3 linked regions of the Homo sapiens genome follow. The protein of the gene in region 1 purifies or fractionates together with the protein of each later gene. This does not show direct contact. Each region holds a gene or a part of one and is shown in the gene's direction. Other genes may lie near its edges. The genes, in order: DEFB104A, RMND1 and PITRM1.

Region 1 (3,752 bases):
TTTCTTTTGAAGTTTGGTTATTCAGTCCCTGTATATGAATTACTTTTTTTTTTTTTTTGAAGAATTGCTGAATATTTATTATCATCAGAATTTTTCAGTTTTCTTCAGAATCCTGGTCACATAGATGACCTTGAATATTGGCTGATGTTTTTCCCTTGAAGCTCATCATCAAAAATTACTAAAGCCTGACATGTGGCAGGCTAGGAGGGTCCCATGGATCCTGCACATTTGTGCTTGCTGTGTGTCTGCTGTGAGGAGAGTATCCGACGGCCTCTACGTGCTGCACGTTTGTAACCTGCGGCAGGATTCCCATGGCTACCACTCTTGCCCTGGCTGCTTCCAGGCAGTGAATGAGCACAATGTGGACTAGAGCTGGGCCATGTCTGCTGGTGTAGGACAGTCTTTGCCCTGGGGTTCCCCACTGGCAATGCTGAAATTTTCTGCACTGTAGTCTGAGGCTCCCCCGACTCCAAACCTTTTCACAGGTGTTAATTGACATCATGTTCTGAAGACTTTCCCTACTCAATCTTGCTCCCTCTCCCCTTCATCTTTTTGTTTTGAATTTTTATTTTATTTTATTTTTTTCAGAGACAAGGTTTTGCTGTATTGCCTACTACACTGGAGTGCAGTAGTGCCATCATAGCTTACTGCAACCTCGAACTTCCGGGCTCAAGAGACCCCCCTGCCTCAGCCTCCCAAGTAGCTGGGACTACAGGGACACACCACCATCCCTGGCTAATTTTCTTTTTGTGTAGAGTCGGGGTCTCTCTATGCCGTCCATGATGGACTCAAACCCCTGAGCTCACATGATCCTCCTCCCTCGCTCAGCCTCCCCAAGTGCTGAGATTTACAGGTGTGAGCCACTGCGCCTGGCTCCCCTTTATCTTTCACAGGCATTTCCCAATAAATTTATTTCCTTTCTAATTCCTGTTGATAAATGCTTCATGGAGCACCCAAACTGGCATAGTTTATGATTTCTGATGTTCTATTCTATTTCGTTACTGTGAAAGGAGACCTGGTTTTCCATCACATTCTCCCCTAAGTGAGAACTCTGGGGAAGACACACTGACTGCTAGATTTTGCTTAGGATGTGCAAGCAACGTATGTCTGTCAGGCTTTGTCTAATCTGTGTTCTAGAATAAGGGGAGCTTATTCGAGAATGTCAACTTTCAAGATTGGACGTTTTTACTTTCTCTAAAGTACTTCATTTTAGAGAAATGAAGTATTTTTTTTTTCTTAAAATAAAATTATCTGGTGTTTTCCCTAAGGGCAAATGCCAGGAGCATATGCTCTATATGTTTTGCCTCGGGTGGGGTTGGGGTTAAATCCAGGGAGCATACACCCCGGGTTGAGGGCCAGGCGTATGCTCTCTGGAAGGTTATGTTTTATTTGAAGCCATTGTTAGAAATACAGCATTCTCATGAATTGTCTCCTTTTAACCTCTCTTCTCATTCTTGTCCTCCTTTTCACCTAAGCCCTAAGTGAGCCTGATGCTCTGTGGTTACAATCCCACCCTTGGACAATGCCCGCCATCAAGTATTCCTTGTTGTCACTTGTCATCCTCATCCTACACTCTTTCTATCACAGAAATGTCCTGGGACCTTTCACGCATTTATGACCTCCCCACGCTCCATGCCATTCTTCTCCTTGACATTGTATGTTTGTTTCAATGTTTACTTCAGAGAGGTCTTGGGGGCTATGGACTTCAATTCCATTAGCCACATCACAATTTTCAACAAGAATCTCCTGACTGAAATGTACTGAAATGGAAGAGAAAGTCCTCTCACCAGAATTGAGGAATGTCAAGGCTGGAAGGTATCTTAGAGATCATCTAATCCAGTTCTTGCTTCAGAAACGATTCAGGGAAGCAAGTGAAGTGACTTGGACTTTACCTATGGTAATACTCTCTCCCCACCCTCAACACTGCCCAGCTGGCATTTCTGTAGCCCCAACACCTCCCCCACACTGTGCCTTGGTGAGTGTTCACCAAGGAACGCTGCATTTTGATAAGCCTCAGTAATCAAGAGCAGCCTCTGCCCATAAATACACCTGCCCTGCTCCTGCCTGGGGTGATTCCCTCCGACTTGCGTCTGCTTCTCGCCAGCAGCCCCAGCATTATGCAGAGACTTGTGCTGCTATTAGCCATTTCTCTTCTACTCTATCAAGATCTTCCAGGTAAAAAGGGACTCTCAGCTGGAAATATACACAGTTGCTGGGGATGACAGGGGGAGAAGAAAAACATTTGATTTAGAAAATAAATCCTGAAGGATGGAGTAACCTTCTTCAATCTCAGCCTTTTTTCTCTTTGCTTTCATTGGGTCCATTAGTAAAATGCAGTATGTGGCAGTCCTTGTATGCACCTTACAGCCACGAGGCTTACTAGCTCAAGGAGGAAAAAAGAAACGTAGGGATCAGGAGTCCTAGATGTCCTTGGCACCCTGGCCACACACGGTAACAATTCCTCATGGAATCCTCAGCAATGAGGACTCACTAGCCATGCTTGTTCCATTGCAGGGCAACAGCAATTATTCATTGTTGATTTTGTAGAATAAGATGCCTTCCCCCATCCTCCTCCTTCTGAACAGCTTTACTCTGCACAGAAAAGGGCGCCTACTCATCCTCCTAAATTTTGCAACTTTTCATATCAAGTCAGATGATTAGGGTTAAAGGGGATGCAGTGATTTCAGTAGGCAAGAACGTAATTTACTGACAACACAAATAGCAGGTGCCTTTGAACTCTGCTCAGGAAATTTTAGACTGAGATGTCAGCAATCTTCTGACTCCTACGTTAATCTATGTCCCCAGAAGCATGTATTTCTTAATATATTTGCAATGGATATGAGAGAGCACCTAATCTAATTCCCTTCTTTTACAAGCTGAGCAGCATTCTCTATGGTACAGTGAGAGAAAATAAGATTTTTAGAGTTGCTTAACAAGTCTAGCAGTGCTGGGACGAAACCAATTGTTTTGACTCGTAGAAGCCATCGGATCTTCTCTTCCAAGCTGCTCAGTCAATTTTATGGGGCTTTGACAGACACCCAGCACCCATCTTTTTGCCCTTCCGGGCTGTGCCTCCACTGTGATTCAGATGGGTTAATGATTTTTTTTCAGAGGGTACCTGTTTAGGTTAACTCTTCCTTTTTCTTTCTTCCCGTGTCATTTCCCAAAGACACTTCTGTGAAATTCTGCTATGGGCATGTTCCAGGTCTGTTAAAATATGATAGCAATTTATCAAAGAACAGGTTTTCTTCAACCTTTGATCCCAAGACAAAGAACTTGGGATGGAAAGCCTGGGTCAGGGATCCCTCCAGATCCCGAAGAATGCACCGCAGAGCTGGCTGCCATTATCCACACTTGGCTGCAGAGGGCTGGGTCAGACTGTCCTCTGCAGTTGAATTCTGAGAAAGACCATTAGCAGGAAGAGGATTAGGGAGGGAAGTGGCAGAAGTGGGTGAGGGTGAATGACATGCGCTGCCTGCCTCTTCTCCTGCCACCCCTGCTTTGGGTAAGTTTGGCTGTCACACACTGTCAGCCCCTCAGATACCCACAGGGACTGGGGATGGGTGCTGTCAACCAAAAATAAAATTCTAAGCCCCCTCCCCAACCATCTAAATGGACTCCCTCCTCAGCCAGGGCTCTTAAAATTTAATCTGAAAGACTGCTTCAGGCCATGAAAGGAAGTGGGGGTTGGACATGCCTCATTACACTTTCCATCATGAACATCAACACAGACTTTAAGTGTGATAAGAAAC
Region 2 (3,752 bases), on another chromosome or scaffold:
TTTGCTCTAAGGTAAAAGTTTTCTCTCTAAATAAAATATTTCATATATTTAACAATCTCAAGAAAACATTCCCATAGTTCTGTGGTGAAGAGCAAACATTTACACGTTTATGGGAACTGTAGCTGTTTTCATTTCATTGATTATAAGCAGGGAGAACTCTTACCCATTAGAAGTAGTTGGGCTGTGTTAAGACTGTACTGAAAGAAATCACGCATGTGCAAAAGAGATCACGATTCATCTACATTAAACCCACATTAAGGAGCACAGTAGGTGTTCTTTGAAGGTAGAAAGACATATTCCTGAATTTGGTTAATGGGAATTCTCTGTAAAAATATATCACTGCATCATAATGCTAAATAGGCTTAATTGCTACAGAAAAGTTTCTTTGAATCTGAGACACCAAGATGCCACTGGAGAGAAAAACTGCTGCCAGTTAAACTATGACAATACTTTTTTTATCAGAGGATTAAAATTTTACACTTACTGAAATATCTTTTAATCTTAGCTGGATATAAATTATATCACATTCCCTCTTGGGCATATATGAAAAGGAAAGCATAAGAAAATAAATTATTTAAGGCAAAGACAAGTAAGTCTCAAGTGCCACCTGTCAGACACCATTAATTTTAAGATGCCTCGAGATGTTAAAATGGGAATAACTATGTCTAAAAACTGATGAATCATTTTAAATAAGTATCTGGAAAGGTTTTCAGCTTTTATTATTCTTGTAGTTGTCCCAGGATTTACGGAATGAAACATCCCGGATGTTGGTGTTTTTCTCACAGGCAGCATTGTCCAGTTTATCCCTTCTAGCATGTGGAATGAGTTACCAGAGCTCACTGCAAATGTTCACCTAAGACTTGTTTTTCCATATTCTCCTTAGATGCTCTGCCTGGAGAGAAGTGATACAGTGTTTCATTGTCTGTGTATCTCTCATAGCTCAGGACCTATAGTTCAGGGTACCAACAAAACTTAAAAACCCATCCATCAGGAGCATCCTGCAGCATATCTGAAGCCTCAAATTCTCTGAGAAGTAGGGTAGAGAGATTCTTCTCTCCTGTTCTCTTGGTCATGCAAGCAGAAATTGATGTAGTGAATTATAATATCCAAACTGAATAGTTAGGACTAAATATACGTAGGTTTGTGAATAGTTTCTATAAAGGCTTACTTTTACTATCCTGTTTCCTTACCTGTACAATAAAAATGCTTATTTGTTAATATAAGGAATGTGATACATCTGTGAAAATAAACATGGCAGATAATATTAGATTAAAAAACTAAATCTAAATTTATATAGGGTATGATCCCATTTGTGTAAGCAAATAAAAATATTCATGTTTATCTTTATATGCATACACATGTACATGTGTTTGCTTGCACACACATGCATGTATGAATACAGAAAGATCTGGAAGTACACAGCAAAGTGTCTCTACAGGCCTGTCCTTGGGGAGAATAAAGGATTTAAGTAGTGTGGTAGCATAAGAGAGCCTACCATTTTTCTGAATCCTTCTCTAGGATATTTTCCTTTTTTTTTTAATCGTGAACAGGTATGTATGTGTTACTTTTTTTTTTTTTTTTTTTAAACAGGGTCTTGCTTGTCACCCAGACTAGAGTGCAGTGGCATGATCATAGCTCACCAAAGCCTTGATCTCCTGGGCTCAGGGATTCCTCCTGCCTCACCCTCCTGGGTAGCTGGGACCACAGGAGTGCTCCACCACACCCAGCTAATTTTAAAAATAATTTGTAGAGACAGGGTCTCAAACCCTTGCTCAAGCAATCCTCCTCCCTAGGCCTCCCAAAGTGCTGGGATTACAGGTGTGAGCCACCACATCAGTTTATGTGTACTTTCATAACTTAGATTTTTATTTAGTTAAACATCTAAGTGTAAGGCCAGGCACGGTGGCTCACACCTGTAATGCCAGCACTTTGGGAGGCTGAGACAGGTGGATTGCTTGAGGCTGGGAGCTCGAGACCAGCCTGGCTAACATGATGAAACCCCATCTCTACCAAAAATACAAAAATTAGCCAGGAATGGTGGTGTGCGCCTGTAATCCCAGCTTCTTGGGAGGCTGAGGCATGAGAATTGGTTGAACCCAGGAGGCGAAGGTTGCAGTGGAGCCAGGATCATGCCACTGCACTCCAGCCTGGGCGACAGAGCAAGATTCTGTCTCAAAAAAGAAAAAGGCTGGGCACGGTGGCTCACATCTGTAATCCCAACACTTTGGGAGGCCGAGGCCAGTGGATCATCTGAGGTCAGGAGTTCAAGACCAGCCTGACCAACATGGAGAAACCCCATCTTTACTAAAAATACAAAATTAGCCGGGCGTGGTGGCACATGCCTGTAATCCTAGCTACTCGGGAGGCTGAGGCAGGAGAATTGCTTGAACCCAAGAGGTGGAGGTTGTGGTGAGCCAAGATCGCGCCAATACACTCCAGCCTGGGCAACAAGAACAAAACTCTGTCTCAGAAAAAAAAGTAAGCACAGACTTCTTATATTAAAATGTAGAAATTAAGAGAGAGAGTGTGTATGTTTATGCTTGCTTGTCTAGTGTTTGCATAAACACTGGAAGGATACAGCGGAAACTAGAAGGGATTACTGATAGGGAAAGATACAGATAAGAATAAGAGTTAAGATTTATCAATTTTTACCTGTTTATATCTTGATCTGCTCAGGAGGCTGAGGCAGGAAGATCACTTGAGCCCAGGAGTTTGAGGCTGCGGTAAGCTATGATTGTGTCACTGCACCCCAAACTGGGTGACATATGAAGACATTATCTCTAAAAAAATTTTTTAAATAAAAAACAAAAAAGTGTGGACATATTAAATTTTTTTTTTATTTGAGATGGGGTCTCACTATGTTGCCTAGGCTGGAGTACAGTGTCACAGTCTTGGCTCACTGCAGCCTCTGCCTCCGAGGTTCACATGATCCTCCCACCTCAGCCTCCCAAGTAGCTGGGACTACAGGCATACACCACCACACCTGGCTAGTTCTTGTATTTTTTGTAGAGATAGGGTTTCGCTGTGCTGTCCAGGTTGGTCTTGAACTCACAGACTCGAGCAATCTGCCCGCCTTGGCCTTCCAAAGTGCTGGGATTACAGGCATGAACCACCATGCCTGGCCCTAAAATTTTTAATAAAAAAAGTTTAGGCTGGGAATGGTGGCTCACACCTGTAATCCCAGCACTTTGGGAGGCTGAGGTAGGCAGATCACGTGAGGTCAGGAGTTCGAGACCAGCCTGGCCAACTTGGTAAAACCCTTTACTAAAAATACAAAAAATTAGCCAGGTGTGATGGTAGGCACCTGTAATCCCAGCTACTTGGGAGGCTGAGGCAGGAGAATTGCTTAAATCTGGGAGGCAGAGGTTGCAGTGAGCTGAGATCATGCCATTGTACTCCAGCCTGGGTGACAAGAGTGACTCTGTCTCAAAAAAAAAAAAAAAATTGAAAACAAAATGAGTTTTTTTCTGTGTACTTCATAAATAATGTTGGTATTAAAGATTGAATTAATTTGGTTCAGAAGTTTGAAACTCATTTGTAAATTTTATTTACATGTTTGTTGGCAGTATTTTGCAAAGGTCAGCATTAACAAATGTTTTCAGCCACATGCAATGCCACATGCCTGTAGTTCCAGCTACATGGGAGGCTGAGGCAGGAGAACAGCTTGAGCCCAGGAGTTCAGTTTGCAGTGAGTTGTGATCACACCACTGCACTCCATCCCGGGTAACATAGCAAGACCCTCTCTCTTACCA
Region 3 (3,752 bases), on another chromosome or scaffold:
TGTAATCAGACACACTAGCGTTTCTGCAGCCAAACCTGATGTTTCACTGAGCATGAGCATGAAGACTCACTGCCCTGATCTGTTTAGTCAGGTTTTGCCATCAAATAGCTTGCTCTAAACGTCCGCAGAACCTTTCAGTTTTCTGAGCCATTCGGGTTTCAGAATGATAAAGAAGCAATTGTGGACCTGTACTTACTTGGGTCTGTATTAAAATAGATTCATTTGGTTTTTGTTTTGTTATTTTGCCTAAACCTTTTGCATTGTTTCTATTTAGCATGGTAACTGAAAATGACACGCTTCATGTATTTGGCCAGCTGTTGGCTTTGTGCTATGCTTGATGTTATAGCAAACGTGAAAGACAAACAGCTTACTGTCTAGAAAGACTGCTGCGGCTGTGACCGGAGGCACATGGTGGACGCCACGCGGAGGGCCAAGGACAAGGGCAGGAGGAGGAGTGGGAGCTGCTGCTGCTGGGGGCAGAGGGAAGAGCTCCTGGAGAGGGTGGTGTGAGAACGTGGCTGCCTTCGGTCAGGGCTCCAGCAAGGGAGCCAGGGCAGTGACTAGGGTGCGCCAGACAAGGTCCAGGCATGGGACTCATGAAAAGACTTGGAGCGTTTGTGAAATCCTGCAAAGGCCAGGCAAAGACACTTGGGTTTATGGTACAGGTTACTGTTAATAAGGGCCTCACCCACAGCGGTAGATTCTCCTCCTTTATTTCTCAAATTTTATAGAAACGTATTTACTTTTGAGACTGGGACTCACCCTGTCGCCCAGGCTGGAGTGTGGTGGTATGATCTTGGCTCACTGCAGCCTCGAACTCCTGGGCTCAAGCGATCCTCTTGCCAAGTAGCTGGGACAAGGTGCCACCACGCCTGGCTAATTGTGTGTGTGTGTGTGTGTGTGTGTGTGTGTGTGTGTGTGTGTGTGTGTGTAGATGGAAACTTTGTTGCCTAGACTGGTCTCAAACTCCTGGGTTCAAGCAATCCTTTTGCTTGTGTATTAGTCTAGTCTCACACTGCTATGAAGAAATACCCAAGACTGGGTAATTTATAAAGTATGAGCTAAAAAGTGAAGAGGTTTAATTGACTCACAGTTCTGCATGGCTGGGGAGGCCTCAGGAAACACAATCGTGGTGGAAGGCATCTCTTCACAGGGCGGCAGGGGAGAGAATGAGGATCAAGTGAAGGGGGAAGCCCCTTATAAAACCGTCAGCTCTCATGAGAACGTGCTCACTGTCACGAGAATAACATGGAGGAAACCGCCCTCTTGATTCAATTACCTCCCACCAGGTCCCTCCCACAACATGTGGGGATTATGGAAACTACAATTCAAGATGAGATTTGGGTGGGGACACAGCCAAACCATATCACCTTGGCCTTCCAAAGTGCTGGGATTATAGGTGTGAGCCACTGTGTCCAGCCATAGAAACTTACGATAAGTCATGATTCTTGTTTGAGAAATAGCTACCATGAAAGCTATTATTATTAAAGCTATATATTATTAGAAAGCAAACATCTCACTGTATCTGCTGACTTCAAAAGCATTGATCATCTGTTACAAAGTACAGTGAGCTTGGAAACAGAAGTAATTTCGCGGCGGTAGATGATGCAGGTCATAGTGGTCTGCTTTATGCATGACTGTTGCGTGGCAGGCTCCCTAGATTGGGCTGAGGAGACCCGAGGTCTGACCTTGGCCAGCGACTTACTGTGTGCGCTTGGCCAGGTGACTCATGGCACCTGGCAGGAGGGGGTGGTGAGTGGTGTGGTGATCACAGGGACGTGGTGTGTGATTGAGGGAGAGGGCCGGCTGGCATGACTGGAAGAGAAGACAGTTTCTTTCATACCGAGGAGTATGGTCACTTACCAGGAGGCTTACCTAAAGTAGGAGATGACCTTCCACGCCGCCCCAGGAGTGGGGAGTCTTTCGTCTGTCTTGTGGGCATTTCTATCCTCCCGGCCCCTCCAGCTGTTCTGGAAGCCACAGCTTTGTGCTTCTAGCTACCACCGAGAACCCATCCTAAACTAAGAGAAGCAAAGGCTGATCCTAGAGCCTCTCCCTGCTGTCGCAGGCTAGCCCACTCTAGCATTTCCCCTCCTTGCAGGCCCGTTCTGCGCACTACAGGAGATGATATGCACAGAAACAGACACACAGCCAACGTTGGAAGGGGTGCTGTGTTACTGAGGCGCAGCACACAAAAGCAGGAGACACTCAGCAGACATTGGAAGGGGCGCTGTGTTACTGAGGCACAGCACACAAAAGCAGGAGACACTCAGCAGACATTGGAAAGGGCGCTCTGTTACTTAGGTGCAGCATGGTACCATGGGAAGGGCAGACACCAGGGTGAATCCTGGCTCTGTGATTTAGGCAGCTTATTTCATCACCCTGAGCCTCGGTTTTTTCGTCTGTAAATGAGTATGAGAATACCTCCCTCACAGGATTATATGTGACATGATTAGAAAATGCCTAGCCAAAAAAAGAATAAAAAATTTAAAAAATAAAAAAATCTAAAATACCTAGCCAGTAGTAAGCGCGTGCGCTCTCGCGCTCGCTCGCTCGCTCGCTCTCTCTCTCTTTCTATACACACACACACATATTCTCATCTGCCTTTTTTAGGTCTGTCTTTCCTTGTTTGTAGGATAAGGGACCTGGACAAGATGGTTCTCTTCTCTCCAGCTCTGAAATACTGCCTTCCCGGCATCATCTAATTTCAGGCAGAAAAGCCAGTTTTCTCAGTGTGTCGAACATAACCATTTCAAAGGCCATTTTGTCTAAGTTTAACTGGTCGTGTTTTTCTTGTTAACTCAGGTGACATCTGTTCCCGAGCTGTTCCTGACTGCAGTGAAGCTCACCCATGATGACACAGGAGCCAGGTATTTACACCTGGCCAGAGAAGACACGAATAATCTGTTCAGGTGTGTGGTGCATTGTAAGAACATGGTCTTGAATGTTTTTATTTAAATCAGGAATGTCCATTCTTTTGGCTTCCCTGTGCCACAATGGAAGAAGAACAACTGTCTTAGGCCACGCATAAAATACACTAACACTAAGGACAGCTGATGAGCTAAAAATAATAAATAAAGGACCCCTCAATGTTTTAAGAAAGTGTATGAATTTGTGTTGGGCTGCATTTCAAGCCATCCTGAGCATGCGGGCTGCAGGCTGCGGGTTGGACAAGCTTGATTTAAAACATGGCTATACATTACGTGGTTTAAAATATCATCTCACTAGTATTTTTATTGACAGAGCATCTTGAAAAATAAGGAAAAGTTTACACTGACTTATAATCTCATCAAAATACAATTTTACAGTCTGAGTCAATGATTTACATTATAGTTGGAAAACCCTGTGCTGGAGGATTGTGGTGTCAGAATGATGATTTCTAGTAGCCTGAGGTGATGATGCATCTGGGAACTGTGTCCGCAGCACTAAGCTGAACCTTTTGCGTTCTGGTCATTCTCCTTCCCTAGCGTGCAGTTCCGTACTACTCCCATGGACAGTACTGGTGTTCCTCACATTCTTGAGCATACCGTCCTTTGTGGGTCTCAGAAATATCCGTGCAGAGACCCTTTCTTCAAAATGTTGAACCGGTCCCTCTCCACGTTCATGAACGCCTTCACAGGTAAGACCAGCATCCTGAACAGAAACTGCTTTTGGGTTTGCCAGGCACACCCACTGGAATTCAGTTAGTTTCTGAGAAGGAATGAGGGGAGTGGGCAATTCATGTTCTAGAAAAATTTTTACCTCTCTCTAGT

The links.
Region 2: the proteins of DEFB104A (region 1) and RMND1 purify together in Homo sapiens (affinity purification with mass spectrometry, with the first as the bait; 2 studies listed by BioGRID). This does not show direct contact.
Region 3: the proteins of DEFB104A (region 1) and PITRM1 purify together in Homo sapiens (affinity purification with mass spectrometry, with the first as the bait; 2 studies listed by BioGRID). This does not show direct contact.

The regions. Positions count from the first base shown.
Region 1 is NC_000008.11:7,834,368-7,838,119, forward strand, and holds the start of DEFB104A (beta-defensin 104 precursor), read left to right. Parts: upstream 1-2,068; 5' UTR 2,069-2,117; coding exon 2,118-2,175; intron 2,176-3,752. UniProt on the Homo sapiens protein: Has antimicrobial activity. Synergistic effects with lysozyme and DEFB103.
Region 2 is NC_000006.12:151,417,504-151,421,255, reverse strand, and holds part of RMND1 (required for meiotic nuclear division protein 1 homolog), read left to right. Parts: coding exon 1-11; intron 12-3,752. UniProt on the Homo sapiens protein: Required for mitochondrial translation, possibly by coordinating the assembly or maintenance of the mitochondrial ribosome.
Region 3 is NC_000010.11:3,166,096-3,169,847, reverse strand, and holds part of PITRM1 (presequence protease, mitochondrial isoform 2 precursor), read left to right. Parts: intron 1-2,805; coding exon 2,806-2,912; intron 2,913-3,467; coding exon 3,468-3,619; intron 3,620-3,752. UniProt on the Homo sapiens protein: Metalloendopeptidase of the mitochondrial matrix that functions in peptide cleavage and degradation rather than in protein processing. Has an ATP-independent activity. Specifically cleaves peptides in the range of 5 to 65 residues.